Homo sapiens: one gene and its partner. The protein of the gene in region 1 purifies or fractionates together with the protein of each later gene. This does not show direct contact. Each region holds a gene or a part of one and is shown on either strand. Other genes may lie near its edges.

Region 1 (8,519 bases):
CCTGGGTTATAGGGATATGAATCCTGGAAGCTCTCCACTGACTGCACCAGGGTGACTGTCAGGACAGTGCCTCAAATCTGTTCCCTCTTCCAAGGCTCTCAGGATGCTTTCTAGAGAGCTGGCTCTCTGACTTGGTGGTTCTTGAACTTGGATGTGCATGAAAAATCACCTGAAATGCTGGTTTATAGACATTTCTGGGGCCTCATTCCAAGGAAGCTCCATTTTATTTTTTATTTTATTTTTATTTTTGAGACTTAGTCTTGCTCTATTGCCCAGGCTGGAGTGCAGTGGCATAAGCTTGGCTCACTGCAACCTCTGCTTCCTGGGTTCAAGTGATTTTCATGCCTCAGCCTCCCGAGTAGCTGGGATTACAGGTGCTCACCACCATGCCCGGCTAATTTTTATATTTTTAGTAGAGATGGTGTTTCATCATGTTGGCCAGGCTGGGCTTGAACTCCTGATCTCAAGTGATCCGCCTGCCTTGTCCTCCGAAAGTGCTGAGATTACAGGCATGAGCCACTTCGCCCAGCCAGGAGGCTTCATTTTAAACCAACTCTGGGGCTTAGTTACTGAGAAAGCCTTGCAGTAGCTGAATTGCGAGTTCTCTGAGGCCCTGAGCCAAGAAGTCCTTTCATGGTGTTTTATAGCTCTTACCATTTTCTCTCTGAAGAAATCTGTGTCCACGTTGATATATTTGGAATTACTTATTGATCTGATTAAGAGTTACAAGTCATTTCCAAAAAAGTTGGAAAATCTAGATGAATAAAGAATAAAAATAATCTCTATTTCTACGCCTGTAAATATGTCCATTTATATCCCTCCAGCCATCTTCTTTGTAAATATTTTGAACAAAAAGGATCCCGCTCTATGGCTGATTTTTATTTAATTTATTTATTGAGACAGGGGCCCACCCTGTCACCCAGGCCATAGTGCAGTGACACAATCATGGCTCACTGCAGCCTCAACCTCCTGGTGTCAAGCAATCCTTCTACCTCAGCCTCCTGAGTAGCTTGGGACCACAGGTGTGCACTGCCACGCCTGGCGAATTTTTAAATTTTTTTGCAGAGATGGGGTCTCACCATGTTGCGCAGGCTGGTCGTGAACTCCTGGGCTCAAGTGATCCTCCAGCCTCGGCCTCTTAACATGCTAGGATTACAGGCATGGTTGATTTTTATAGTCTTTTTTCACCTAAAATGTAATATGCAGTGATTCTATAGCTCTCCCCCAATTTCATCTCTGTGTCCTGAAAGTGACCAGTTTAGTCCTTGTCACAGTAGAGCCCCCAGTAATTAATCTTAGCAATAAAATTCTATAACTGTGGGATGGAACAGTGTGTCAATTGCGTTTTCGGAGAAACCTATGTCCAATTTGCACACAGAACGCCCACAGACCTCTGCTTACTAGCTTGGCTGGAAGGACAGGGTCTGCTGTAAGGACAGCAACCTTACCTAGGGCTTTTCCAGAGGCCTGAGAGGTCCTGCCAAGGCCCTGGGCTCAGGGGTCCAAGGTGGGAGAGGGCGAGAGAAAACAACGTGCTAATGCAGCCTTGAGTGGCTCTCAAACAGGAGCAGAGGGAAGGCTGTGAGGGGAGTTGGCTGCTCTCTTTGGAGTCAGAAAGGTTGTTGCTCAACTCTTTGGATTTTCCATCACAGCTGGGCAGGGAGAGGGTCAGACTGGGCATGACTTCTCCGAACAGGTCCTTTTAAAGCCTCTTGGCTGAACTGATTTCCTCTCCAGAGCCAAGGAAGCAGTGCCTGGGTGAAGTTAACCCCTTCACCCCCAACACATTCTTCCAGAGCTAGGTGAGCCTGGAAGCCTAGGCTCCTGGAAGGCAGAGCTACACAGGGCAAGAGGCCTAAGGAGCCGTGAACTCTGGCTGGAGAAACCTTCCCTCTGGCCTTGTTAAATCCAACAGGCATAATTGCATCCTGCTGACCTTAATTCCCCTGGCGGGTTTAATTGGTCTTGGCATTGCCCCACTTCCTGTCCTGCCCCTGTAGAGGCAAAGAGGGTGTCTGCACAGCTGGTGCAGGGCGGGGAAGCCCCTTCTTGAGGGTGGGCAGGGGCTCTGGCAGCCCCTAGGTGGGTGGAGGAAGTTTCCCCGTGCCCCACCCCTGTGCCTCCAAGGGAGTGCTGAGAAGCTTGGGGACTCCCAGGGAGCAGCTGGCTGGAGCAGGCAGTCCCGTAGATTCGGAACCAGGCCAGACTCTCATCCCAGTGGGAGGCACTGCAGGGGAGCTGGCGGGAACAGATGAACCCTCTACCTGGGGTGTCCACGACATTATCAGGCCCCCACAGTGCTGTAGGTACTGTGCCATTGGGCACTCTTTACATGTGTGCTGGCTAAATGCTCGCAGCCATGCTGTGAGAGGGAGGCAATGGGGCAGAGCAGTTATGAGCAGAGCCTTGGGTTAGATGGGTCCAATCCCAACTCTATGACTTTGCCCTGTGACTCAGTTTTCCTGTCACATCTGTGAAATGGGGATTAAAGAGCTGACATTTATACAGCACTCGCTATGCTCACACTCACTGTTGTAATGCTTTATCTACCTCCTGGGAGGCAGATGCTCTCCTTACGGATGAGGAAACAGGTGAAGACATTGTTCCAAGCTCACAGTTACTGGTCGCAGCGCTTCATTGACAGATCTCCTAATCACTGCATGGTAGGGAGTTGTAAGACTCGAAGGAAGGATACTCATGAAGCTGCTTACCCCAGGGCCTGGTCCATTTTAGAAAGAGTTCAATAAGAGTAATTATTTGGGAATAATAATTATAACAAAAGTAGCACTAATGCCCCTGAAGTTGTCCCAGGCTGGATTTTGGTCTCATTGGGAGGTGGCTCTGGATTTGAATGTGGGTAGTTTGAAGCCATTCACTAGCTGAGTGACTGTGGGGACAAGCCACTTCCCTCTGTGAGCATCAGTTTCCACACCTTTAAAATGGTGTAACATTGGCCCCTACAGTCCCTTCTGAGGATCCAGGGAGCTGGATCTTTGGCATAGTCTGGCCTGGCCGTTGGTGGGCACTCAATAAATGACTGGTATTGATAACCACAATAATAACAAGGAGATGCCAGCAAGGTCCAGCATAGGGAGGTAACAAACTCCAGTCTGGAGCCTTCTGGTTAATCAGTTATTTACTCATCAGACACTGATGGGCAAGTCCACTCTGTGCTGGGGATGTGTTTAGCCCCTGGCCTTCAGGGGGCTCCCAGACAGTGTCAACCAATGGTGGGATCAGCTGGGGCACTGTGGGGAGGCCAGAAGCAGGGGACCCAACATTCCAAATTAAACTAAAACATGCTCTGGGCCAGATAGAGGGCCAGGAGGTCCTAATGATCCGCATTAGGACAGGAAACATTTCAACCTTTTGAATGCTGCAAGATCCACAAAGGGGTTACTCAGCAGGGAGAAGGGGGCAAGGCACAGGCTGGGACATTTTAGGAAGGGAAGAGGGCTTTGGAGTTTGAAGAACGACATTCCAAGCTCAACTCCCTTCCTTGCTGAGTGACTTTGGGCAAGCTACTGATTCCTTTAACTCTCCTCGTCCTCATGCAGAAAATGAGATGAGCGCTCCCCACAGAGTTATCATCAAGATGATGCTTAAAGGCAAGATGGCTAAAACGAATGACAGGTGCTCAGCAAGTGGAAGCTCCCTTTCTGCAGGGGACCTGGGTTCAGAGCTCAGTTCAGCCCCTTCCAAGCTGTGACTTTGAGTAAATTACATAACCTCTCCATGCCTTGGTTTCCCCATCTCTCTAGTACCTACCGCACTGGGTTCTTCTGAAGACCATTTGGGTGGATCAACATGAGAGCATGCAGAGCGAGGCCAGGCACGTGGTCAGTACCGTATAGGCATCAGCTGTTACTTTTGCTTCCTGGAAGAGGCAGACTGTTAACTGGACCTTAAAGAAGAGAAATGGAGGAGAGGAGGACCGGGCCTGGAGAGGAGGGCCAGGCAGAGCAAAAGTAGTCAAGACTGGGGAAAGAGCTCCAACTATGGTTTTTACCAGCTTATACCAAAAACCCTTGACATTTGCTCACAAAACAAAACATCCCACTCATTTTGAATAGTAGCCTGTTCACATAGTTCATGGTTCAAACAGAAAAGTCAAAGTATATACAGTGATGTCTCCTTCCCACCCTTGGGGCCCAGTTCCTTGCTTATCCTACCAAATAAATTCTTATGTGCATAAAGTGAAATATATATTATTCATATATTATTCTCCCTTTTTTTTTTGCACAAATGGATAGCACACTCTACATGCTACTTTGCATCTTGCTTTTTTTATTCCCCCCACTTTGGTGGTCACTTTTTGTCAGTTCATTAACAGCTTCCTCAATCTTTTTTTACAGGTTCCTATTTCCCCACTGCTTAGAGGGGCTGCATTCTCCCTCCTTTCTCTCATCAAGCGTTTTTCCAATGGCTTCCCATTTGACAGAGGAGCCGAGGCCATGGAGTGAAGTGACTGGTTTGCTGCAGTCAGGACCTGAACCTGGATAACCACTCTACAGCTACTTCATTTTATCTTACTTTTTAAAATATAAAGACGGGGTCTTGTTATGTTGCCCAGGCCAGTCTCCAACTCCTGGCCTCGAGTGATCCTCCTGCCTCAGCTTCCCAAAGTGTTGGGATTACAGGTGTGAACCACTGCTTCTGGCCTCTACAGCTACTTCTAATGCACCCAGGTCTGGCCAGTTCTCAAGAGCCCCCTCTGAGAAAGGCTCTGGGTGATGGAAGGCTCCTTGGATCATAGCTGTCCTCATCCTATCTCGAACACCTCAGGCTAGAGTGCCCCTCGGGCCACCCCTGTAGTGGAGCATCCTTGAAAAGACTCTCTGCCAGCCCCCTTCTTCCATGTGGGTCATGGGTGAGAACTGGATGAGCTTGGGGGAGGGGCACAGAGCACTCTCCATCTCCCATGGCTACTCAGGGCAGCCTCCGTGTCCCCAGGAGCCCAAGAAAAGGACAGTTTCAAAAGAAAAAGCTTCCAGGCCTATGGACATGTTGAGAAAGTGCCCCCGAGACAATTTCTTACCCAAAGGTGACGCAAGCAGGTCCAGATGTCGAGGCACAGAGCTAGGCACTAGGGTCAGGGAGATTATCCCTGGGACTTTGTGGCTCTAGCCAGGTTCTGGGGAGCCCCAGGAGATGTGGCACACAGGTGGGCAGACCAGGGCTCAGCCTGGGCATACTCTTGCCCTTCAGGCCTGCCTGAGTACTCCCCTTCTTCCAGGCCCCCTCTGATCCTGTCCAAGTCAGGGATACTGAGCAAGGCCTGGGGAAAGGGCTGCTCCCCCAGCGTCCCAGATACCCCTCCCTTTTCTCGCTTGTTCCAACATCATTCTCCCCCCAGTCGGGCCATGGGAAGAATGCCGTGTCCTCTGAACTGGGGCCAAGAGTGACAGGTGGCGGCAGTCCCAGCTGCATGGCCCCTGGTGTAAGAGATCCTCTCCTCCGTCCCCGCCTCCACTGCCCACACCCCTGCCTCCGCCTCTGCCCACCCGGCCCAATCCCTTACAACTGCCCAGGACTGCTCCTGAGCAGCCGCTGGGAGACAGACGGCAACCAGGTTGCCCCTCTTTGCTCCAGGTACCTCTCTCCCCTCAGTTAGCAGGCCTCGGCTTCCTGTCTCACTGCAGCCAGACGAGAGGGGAAATTGGACAGCCTGACACACTCCACTCTTGTTTCTGCAGCTAGAAAGACTTGAGTTAGACAAGCAGCAGCACACGCCTCCCTACCTCATGGCGACAGAAAATGGAGCAGTTGAGCTGGGAATTCAGAACCCATCAACAGGTGCCAAGCTGGGGCAGGAGATGGAGGGAGGAGCTTGGGAAGGGGGGTTTTGAATCCAGGACTGGGCAGGTTCCTCAGTGGGAGTTCTGTGCCCCAGCCTTGTTTGCATGGTGCACGGGGGACCCAGAAATCAGAGGAATCTCTGGCTAGGGTTGGGCTGGGTCCAGGGCCTGTATGAAGCCCTTCCTGGAGAGACCAGGAAAATGTGAAGCCACCAGGGATGGCTGCTGGGGATGCACCTAAACAGTCAGGGCAAGGATGATGGGGGCCACCAAGGCCCACCCAAAGGGCTGGAAGCCTCCCACAGAGGCCCTCCAAGGTCGTGGCAGCTCATCTCTAGGGGCCATCAAGTGGCCCCAGAGACTCAGTGGGACAAGCATTTGCAAGTTGTTGCCTGGGTGGGAACCTGGGCCCAGAGCTGGTCTCTGCCCAGCCTGGGTGAGAGGGAAGGAAAGGAGGGTGGATCCTGATGGGTGTCTCACCTCCTCTGCAGACAAGGCACCTAAAGGTCCCACAGGTGAAAGACCCCTGGCTGCAGGGAAAGACCCTGGCCCCCCAGACCCAAAGAAAGCTCCGGATCCACCCACCCTGAAGAAAGATGCCAAAGCCCCTGCCTCAGAGAAAGGGGATGGTACCCTGGCCCAACCCTCAACTAGCAGCCAAGGCCCCAAAGGAGAGGGTGACAGGGGCGGGGGGCCCGCGGAGGGCAGTGCTGGGCCCCCGGCAGCCCTGCCCCAGCAGACTGCGACACCTGAGACCAGCGTCAAGAAGCCCAAGGCTGAGCAGGGAGCCTCAGGCAGCCAGGATCCTGGAAAGCCCAGGGTGGGCAAGAAGGCAGCAGAGGGCCAAGCAGCAGCCAGGAGGGGCTCACCTGCCTTTCTGCATAGCCCCAGCTGTCCTGCCATCATCTCCAGGTGAATATCCCCTCCTGGGAGTGGGGAGGGGTCCTGTGGTTCTGTCCCTAGGGGTCCTGCTTAATTCCCTTGTCTTAGGCATGGTTATCATCACATTCAGTGCTGGGGAGTGTAGTTCTGACATTCAGTTTCCTCTGTCCTGTGAATTGCCTCTACCGCCTTGTCCCCTGCAGAAACCAGAACCCTGCCACAATTCATACAAGACTGGAGTAAGAGAGACCCTCAAAGACTGCCTAGGTTGAACATATCTTCTCTAGGCTTCTGGGGTCCGAAGTTCCCCTTACTCCATGGGCTTGGGTCTAGCCAAGGGCAGGGTTGAGATGGCAGGCAGAAAGGCTAAAGGTGTCAGGCAAAAGGCTGTGTATTTCCTAGGACATCCAGTATTTTCCTGTTCTTCTTAATATAATTATTGGTAAGATATGAAAAGATGACTAATAACCAGATTGGAGGATCATTGATAATATTTTCATAACCATAATATAGCACATGTGTGATGCCATCAGTTATACTTACCTGAATGCTAATGAGGTCATTAATGATATATTGTAAGCCACAATAAGAACATTTACCATATCACTTTGATAATTATGTATCAATTATATCACAACAGATTTTATGAATCAAGAGCTACATAACTCCCTAGTTGTATCCACATGATGATTAACCATATCAACAATCCTATTAATAGTTATTAATGATGTATTAGTGTGTTGGTAGTCAAGATAATGACCACAGCCATGAACATCCCTTAATTTTGTACCAGGTGAATTTGGCTGTATTACACCATGCATTTGGGGTGGGGTTGGATTAGCTCTGCAGATTGCATTGAGACTTGCCTGATGCCACAGGCTGTGGCCGCTGAGGGCTTCACCTCTGTGTTCTCACCTTCTAGTTCTGAGAAGCTGCTGGCCAAGAAGCCCCCAAGCGAGGCATCAGAGCTCACCTTTGAAGGGGTGCCCATGACCCACAGCCCCACGGATCCCAGGCCAGCCAAGGCAGAAGAAGGAAAGAACATCCTGGCAGAGAGCCAGAAGGAAGTGGGAGAGAAAACCCCAGGCCAGGCTGGCCAGGCTAAGATGCAAGGGGACACCTCGAGGGGGATTGAGTTCCAGGCTGTTCCCTCAGAGAAATCCGAGGTGGGGCAGGCCCTCTGTCTCACAGCCAGGGAGGAGGACTGCTTCCAGATTTTGGGTAGGCCAGGGGCAGGTGGGGGCTGGGGCTGCCCTGGGGCCAGGGGGAGGGAAGGGGGCTGTCAGTCCCAAGTCTACCTATTCGGAGGTCTGAACTGCCCTGAGCCAAGCCTTACCCAGGCCCATTCATCTAAGGGTCACACAACTCCAGAAAGTATTCCTTTTTTAACGTATGTTTATTCATTTGTTTATTTGTTTTAAAAGATAGGGTCTTGCTACGTTGCCCAGGCTGGCTTCAAACTCCCAGCCTCAAGTGATCCTCCCACCTTGGCCTCCCGAGTAGCTGGGACTACAGGCGTGTACAACCATACCTGGCTTTCTTCAATCTTATTTTTTAAGATGTATTTTTATTTTTAAATTTAGTATTCCCTTTTGATAGATGGGGAAAGGAAGGCTCAGAAAAAGGAAAATGAAGTGCCCAAACATATCCAGTGAAGACAGGATTTGAACCTGTCAGGCCACCCAGACTCCAGAACCCACTTTTGAGTTTTTTCTACTTTGACTAAAATGAAGTTAAAAAAAAGAAAAATCAGGCAGATTATTGGAGCAACACAAACTCCCTGGGCAATGGAATTTGGAGTCAATCTGTAGAAGGGCTCAAATGCCAGGCTTAGTAGCT
Region 2 (7,600 bases), on another chromosome or scaffold:
AGGGGAACATCACACACACTGGGGCCTGTCGTGGGATCGGGGGAAGGGGGGAGGGACAACATTAGGAGATATACCTAATGTAAATGACGAGTTAATGGGTGCAGCACACCAACACGGCACATGTATACATATGTAACAAACCTGCACATTGTGCACATGTACCCTAGAACTTAAAGTATAATAATAATAATAAAAAGAAATTGGTTCTGCTCTTAAAAAACAAAGATTTACCACTGTGTATCACAGTCCAGCCTAAAACTTGAACAAAATTGATTTCTTTTAATAGCGTTCTGTATTACTTCACAGGGAAAGGTATTAAAGTCAGATTCTATAATTCTTTAAAGATAACTTCTGGGTATCATTGGATTGTGTGCTTACCAGGTTTTCCCACATATACGTTAAATTTAAATCCTTAGTTCCGAGTTAATTTTCACTACCTAACTGATAAAAAATTATCTGGGCATGTACTGAAGAATGAATTTTTGCAGCTTAGTGAGATAAGTCATTCATACTTTAACAAGAATATTTTAAACAGAGCTGGTTATTCCTGCAGGGAAACCATATTCAGATCAAACTAATTTCTTAAATGACATAAAAGGAGTGAGCAGCTTTGAGGTGTCTTATGTAACTAAGTGCTGACGGCTTGGGACTAGATGATAGAATGACAGAGGAAAGGGAAGCTGAATCTTTGAAATGGTAAAATTATAATTTAAGAATCACAGTAAATATCACCTGCCAGGTATTAAAATGATTAAAGAGCTTATTTTTTCCACACTGCTATTGTGATAGGTTTTATAAACAAATAATTTTAAGTACACTAACCTTTTAAGCACCAGTAATTAGCTGAGAAAAACAAACACAAATGTTCTTGAAGAGAGAGCAAACCCTGAGGGAATTCAGTCCTCTGAAATTATGCTAAGTATTACTGAAATAATTCTAGGTGGCTCCCACCCCTAAAAGAAATCCTTTTAAATTTTTCTCCTGTTTTCTAACATATATAACTTTTATGACAGCTAATTGACAGAATTATTTACTAATATAGGTGGATCTGCCTATGGATAAAACCTTCCAGGATATTTTGGGTTCTCACCAGAACTCAAAATACTGTCTACAATGCTTCTGAATGGAAAGGGCCCTGGATTGGCAGACAGTGGCTTTGCTACCAAATAGTTATAGTTTTGTCACCTCCCTTCTTTGGAGTTTAGTTTCCTAGTCTGTTGAATACAGAAATGAGATTTAATGATCTCCAAGGTCCGTCCTGACAACTCTTAAGTTCCACAATTGAGTTTGAACACTTTTACACAAAGATGACTTCAACATTTAATCCCTGAAATAAACTAAACATATGTAGAAACCAGTAATGTAGGGATAGGATAATATTTTTTAATATCTCCCAATAGGTGTTCCATTATTGTTAAACTGGGTTCTCTCTTGAGCACTTCATCAGCTATCACGGCTCCAAGAAAGGGAGCAGAAGAAATGCCAAATCTCAAAAATGAAGAGGATACGGTACAGAAGGAAAGTTCCTGACAAATGGGAAGGAGAAAAATCCATTCCTTAAAAACCCTGGGGCATGATGGAAAGAAGAAAAGGGTACAAGGAAGAGGTTAATCAGACTCAGTGTGCTTACTTTCCATCCCCTCTCAGGGTGGAAACTAGAATTGAGGGTATGTAGTTGACATATGCACAGAGACATAGGGAAATCCAAGAAAGTTGGAGATAGTGGTTTGCGTCCCTGGACATGTCTGTGAAACACTAAGACGTCTAGGAGTTCTACTTTCAGCCTGCCAGCATGTTCAATATGACATAAGGAGAAAAATGCAACATTGTTGGATAGTGGCTCAACAACTAGTAAGCCCAAAGCAAGGCTCCTGGCTCATCAAGGCCTACACGTGGTATTCGGGGAATCCAGAAGTACCCATGTGTCTCAGTGAGAACCATGAGGATCAAGGGACCTGTGGAGACTCGGGGTCAGTACAAAGAGGTTATAGTGTATGGGGCAAATGGCTCATGTATGGATTTCAGCAAAAGAAATCAGCCTCAAAAGTACAGAAATGACCAGTTTTATGAGTAATAAATGATAAACGACAGTGGCTGCCATCAGACAATACTAGCCACTCCACGCCAGAAGACAACATAAGGACTGGCATTAGTGGCTTAGATGCCCTTGTAAACCTCCCTATTCCTCAGGGATGCTACCACCCTACCAGTTACTCTGTGAATTTGAAAAAGGTGCTTCCTTTCTCAAGACACTTTACTACCATCTATCAGGAAATTGTCATAATATACTAATTTTGCTAAAACAAGGCATTTTACTGCCATATGTCAGAGAATTGTTGCAATAAACTTAGAAATCTAGGGTATGTAAAAGATACCCCTTATACCACATATAACAACCCTAAACCCCGCCCCTCCCATTAATATATTAGAAGGAGAGTTGGGGAAATAAAAGGTGAAAGCAGTTATGTTTTTTAAAAAATTGAGATGATGTGGGGACTTGAAGTTAAAATTACAGAAAATAAACAAGCTACATTTTCTTTACATCTGAATTAATGTAAGTAAAACTTCCACTCTGCCACACCAAAATACAAACTCTTTATGCCCAATATTTTCCTTTTATTAGTATTTCCCATAACACCTTATATACATATTAATGCATACACGGAAGGAGCCAAAAAGTACTTGTCAAATAAAAAAGTAAATTTTTAGAAAAATCAGAAATGATGGACACACTTATATGTATAACGTAATTTTCCTGTACTTTTACTTTTCCCCTATGTTTATTTGAACAAACCTAAAATTGTACCCATTTGCACCTAGCTAACCACCATAAAAATTTGGAGTTCTCCAGCTGTTTTGTAACAGCTGTCCTCCTCAAATATTTTTTTGAGAAACAAACATAGACCTACGTTTCTCTATTTTTCTGGACTAAAGAGAGATCATCTCAAAATCACAGAACTCTTAAAAATTGAAAACAGGATCATGTAGTCTAAAATAAGTTCTTATTTAAACTTGGGAGGTGAGGGGGGCGGGGCTGACATCTAGAAAGGTGAAGTACTTTGCCTGTAGTCACACACCAAGTCTGGGACTCAACACACAGGCTCGCCTCTTTGCGTCTCTCCCTCCTTCCAAAATACATTTTCCTCCCTCTCAAAAGCTTTATCACGCTTTGTAGTTGCTTAATTATCTATGTCAAACCTAGAGAGCAACTGATGACACTCAGAGACATCGCCCAAAGTTCTGAAAACCAGATAATCAGATAAACTGCCAGTTTTACCACATCCAAAAAATGCACAACAAAAGAGAGAAGGGGGAGAATCGAGAATACATTTTCAGCCGCAAGGCAATAAAAACACGTTTCCCTTGGAGAGAGATTATGTTGGGGGCATCAGGTATAAAGGTAATTCCTGTTGAGGGTTTTTCTTTTCCTTGCAGTTTGTGGGACCTAAAAAAAAAAAATTAAAAATTAAATCACATAAACAATCACAACATCAACACATTTACTTCTCTCCTCTCACATATTATTTTCCCACACATTGTATACACTTCTTCAAAGAACAAATCAAATTGGCCAAAGGTCAAAGCCTTTTCAAGGTTTAGATGATATACGATTAGGCACCGACTCCAAACTTCGCTTACCAAGCCCAAAGCTCGGAGACGGAAATCTTCAGGGTTTGCAAATACCCTCAGCTTGGCTAAAGGGCACGAAATCTCTAGCGCTCCCTACAGCTCAGATTTTGAACCCACCTACCACAGAAAACCCGAGTTACCAAAGATTGGCTCCCTCGTTCCACTTTTTTTTCAGCTCAAAAAAATCGGGTGAAGGTTGGGGTAGGGGGGAAGCTGAAACGGCGAACCGAAGGATTAATCACTTCTCCCCATTACATCAGCAACCCCCGCCCTTTCCTCCGAGCACCTCCTCTCCCAGAATCGTCGCTACGCACTGGCGCTCTCTTCGCCCACCCCCTGCTCTATTATTTGCCCTGATACCTCCCCATTATCACCCGCCCCGCCACACTCCCCCTTTCCTCTTTCCCCCTCCTAGGCGGGGGAGGGAGGAAACCCGAGAGAGGAAACAGGGCGTTGAAGGGACTTCGCGATAAGAGCGGAGGCCCCATTGGCCGGAAGGTTGTACGGGCGCCTTAGATTGGCCGCCTGGACGGAATCCCCGCCCCTCCTTTCCCCGCCCACCCACCCCTCCCCCCGCCGCCCCGCGGCCCTCCCCCGCGCCCCCGGCCAGCCCCGCGGCGGGGAGGGACCGACTGGGCGAGTGGAGGCTCCGGCGGTGTCAATGGCTCCTCCTGCCACGGAGCAGCAGCAGAAGCAGCGGCGACAGGGCTGACGAGGAGGAGGAGGAAAGGTTCCTTTAAGGAGGAGGAAGGACGACGCCTCTTTTTCCCCCTATCTCCTCCCTTCACACTCATTTCCCCTTCGCCGAGGAGAGAAGGGGGGGAGGAGAGAGAAGAGACCGAAGAAAGAGAGAAAAATTCCTCACAGAAATCTCTTTCAGGGGGTGTGGGGGGGAGGAAGAGGGAAAAAAAAGAGCCGGGCGCCCCCTGCTCCCTCCCTCCCTTCTCTCCCTCTCTTTTTCTCCCTTCCTCACCCGCCCGCCCACTCCCCCCGCTGCCGGAGACGCCGCTCGCGAGTCGGCGGGACCGGGATCTGTCTCTTCAGCCGCCGCCGCCGCCGCCGCCGCGCTTCGCCTCGGGATCCCCAAGCGGCGGACGCCCTTTCTTTCTTTCTCTCGGTCTGCCCGTCTTTCTGCCTTCGTCCCTCGCGGCCGCCCCGCCCGGCGGCTTCGGCCTTCCCCGTGCGTCAGGCCCTCCCGGCCGGCCTCGCTCGGTCTCCGTCTGTCTACCCGGGCCTTTCTCCGGACTCGGGGTCCCGCTCGCCCCCTCCGCCCTCAGCGTCTCCCCTTCCCCTCGCCCCCTCTCCTTCCTCCCCCCTCTCCCACTCTCCCCACCCCTTTCTCCTGCCCCGAAGCTCGCTGTGCGTGTGCGTGTGTGTGTCCCTCCGCCAACGCCGCCACCTCAGCCCGGCAAATGAACTCCGTCCGAGCCGCCAACCGGAGACCCAGGCGAGTGTCGCGGCCGCGCCCGGTGCAGCAACAGCAGCAGCAGCCCCCGCAGCAGCCGCCGCCGCAGCCGCCCCAGCAGCAGCCGCCCCAGCAGCAGCCTCCGCCGCCGCCGCAGCAGCAGCAGCAGCAGCAGCCTCCGCCGCCGCCACCGCCGCCTCCGCCGCTGCCTCAGGAGCGGAACAACGTCGGCGAGCGGGGTAAGGCCGCGCTACCTCCCAACCGCCCGCCTTCCCGGGCACCGCGGGAAGGGAGGCCGGGGCGGGCGGGCGGGCGGGCGGGCGGGGGCGGCCTGCGCGCCCTGGGGGTGGGAGACCCAAGCTGAGCGGAGGCGGGTCCCCCGGTGCCGCAGTGTCAGCCCGGGCCGGGCCCGGCCGGCAGGAAAAGCCGCGGCTTCCCTTCTCGCCTGGGCTCTCGCTCAGGCCGCGCTTTGTTTGGTTTCGGGGGCTCAGCACCCTCCACCCCCACCCATCCCTTTGGCTTCTCCGCTCGCTCACAGACCCCGCGGGAGTCTGTTGGTGGCCGGGGGGAAGGCGAGCGGCGTGATTTCTCCCTTTTCTGCCGCCTTCCATGGTTTAGTCTGCCTCTTTCTAGTGGTAGGTGGGGGGAGCGACTGGGAGCGATCGGGTGGTGGGGTTGGCTGGGGAACTTGTTTTCCCCCTCTTTTCTGTGTTAGCCTACCCCTTCCTGAGGAGGAGCGGGAGAGGGGAATCGGGGTGGTCTGTGGTGTTGGCAGGGGAACTTGTTTCCCCCGCCCCCCCGTCCCTGGTCACGGGGTAGGGGGAGCAGCGACTCCTCTCCCAACCCCACAGTGTTTGCTGCGCAGTTTGTCTTTAGTTACGAACCCCTGGGAAGGACCCATTAAATCAAGACCTTTAAATAAATAAATATAGAATCCATCGGCCATTTCCAGCCCCCTCCCTCGTGTGCAGTGCAGTTACCCTTCCGCTCTATCGACACCCCCTCGCCTGTCCTCCCCGAGCGACCCCCCATGCCGCGGTGCTACTCTCCGTCTCCTAGTGGGGTTTGAACGCCCCTTGCTTAGAACTGGCCCCTTGGGATATTTTGTGTGTGTGTGTGTGTGTGTGTGTGTGTGTGTGTGTGTGTTTGCGCGCGCGCGCGTGTGTGTGTTGTGTCCAAGGCCTAGTGAAATGTGTCATTTGGACCCAACTGTTTAGCACTGTCTGGTAACCACCATTGTCTAAGGGCTGAGGCTCCCCGAGGTTGAAATCCTGCTTTAGCAAAAATAATGTTCAGTTCTACTTGGATGATGTGGTTATTTTGGGAGGTTTATGAGGGGGGGTGTTGCACCTTGGTCTCCAAACATAACCATTCTCTTTATTAATTAGCTGTTCGCAGTAGTGGTAGAGGTCAGAACCGTATTTATGTGTACGGTTGTTGTTTTAAGGAGGAGGAGAATTGTTAGGAGACATTTTGCGTGTTTTAGTTGGCGGATTAAGGTTAATTTTACATGCGTTTGTTGTCACACCTCCATTGGTTAAAGGGATTGAGATTAAATGTTTTTTAAAATTATACATTATTTCCTTAAAAACGGTTTCATTGTTATACTTGATCACAATATTTAACAAATGAAGGAGGGAGATGTTAATCGGAAAATAGTTTAAAAGGCTTTCACCAGTCACTGTTAAAGGTAGTCTTAGAGAAAGCAGTTTGCTATATGTTGCTTGAAAGAATGTGATGTTTCAAGGCAGTTGGAGATCTTGTGCAACATAATTGGTAAAAGTGTTTTATTTCTTTGATACATTTACCATTTTGGGGGTAAATTTTAAAAATCTGTAGTCTCATTATTTCCTTTCACATATGTCTATCAGTGTTCTTCTGATGTTCCGTTCAAATAATGTTCTTCTTCCAGAATTGCCACTGTATGCAGTACAGCTGACAAATATGTTTGAGAAAACAATGACACTCGATTGAAATTCTAGCCTTTAATATTAAGGATTCTATTGCTACAGTAAGCTTTTTCAAGATGTGGTAATTGGTTAATAATATTAGCATTGGATCAAAACGTGTCAAACAATTTAGTCTCCTTGTGTATTTTAAAATGTTTACTCTGAATTTTCATTTCAAGGTTTGTGTGTAATTTCGAACTTAGTTGATGTAATTTTGTCTTGGACACTTTTATTCATTTGTTCAAAATTATTAGCTACTGAGGTCTATTTTCATTTCTATGTGAGGTAAGGTGACTTGGTTGTTGGCAGTCACATGCCAGTGTCAATTTTCTTCTCATTGATGTCTATAAACTGTCAATATTCATGAATCCAAATTTCAGTATGTACCCAACCAAATGGTAAATGAAATTTACTGTAGAATTGTTGCTTCTCTGCAGCTAGTACAAACTGTTTTGGAGATTCTGTGTTGGCACAGAGCAGAGAGGAAAAGAACTTTAGGGAAAATAGTGTGAGTCTTAAAGAGGGCACATAAATGGCCTTAAAATGAATAAAACATTAAGATGAATTCGTTAACTAAAATAATAAAGATGTTGCCAGCCATATGGAAAAATATGTT

What was found.
Region 2: the proteins of MYLK2 (region 1) and FBXO11 purify together in Homo sapiens (affinity purification with mass spectrometry; 4 studies listed by BioGRID and IntAct, with this or other methods). This does not show direct contact.

Annotation. Positions count from the first base shown.
Region 1 is NC_000020.11:31,813,837-31,822,355, forward strand, and holds the start of MYLK2 (myosin light chain kinase 2, skeletal/cardiac muscle), read left to right. Parts: upstream 1-5,519; 5' UTR 5,520-5,592; intron 5,593-5,696; 5' UTR 5,697-5,744; coding exon 5,745-5,796; intron 5,797-6,289; coding exon 6,290-6,710; intron 6,711-7,602; coding exon 7,603-7,901; intron 7,902-8,519. UniProt on the Homo sapiens protein: Implicated in the level of global muscle contraction and cardiac function. Phosphorylates a specific serine in the N-terminus of a myosin light chain.
Region 2 is NC_000002.12:47,903,163-47,910,762, reverse strand, and holds the start of FBXO11 (F-box only protein 11), read left to right. Parts: upstream 1-4,264; 5' UTR 4,265-5,042; coding exon 5,043-5,274; intron 5,275-5,424; exon of another isoform or gene 5,425-5,670; intron 5,671-7,600. UniProt on the Homo sapiens protein: Substrate recognition component of a SCF (SKP1-CUL1-F-box protein) E3 ubiquitin-protein ligase complex which mediates the ubiquitination and subsequent proteasomal degradation of target proteins, such as DTL/CDT2, BCL6, SNAI1 and PRDM1/BLIMP1.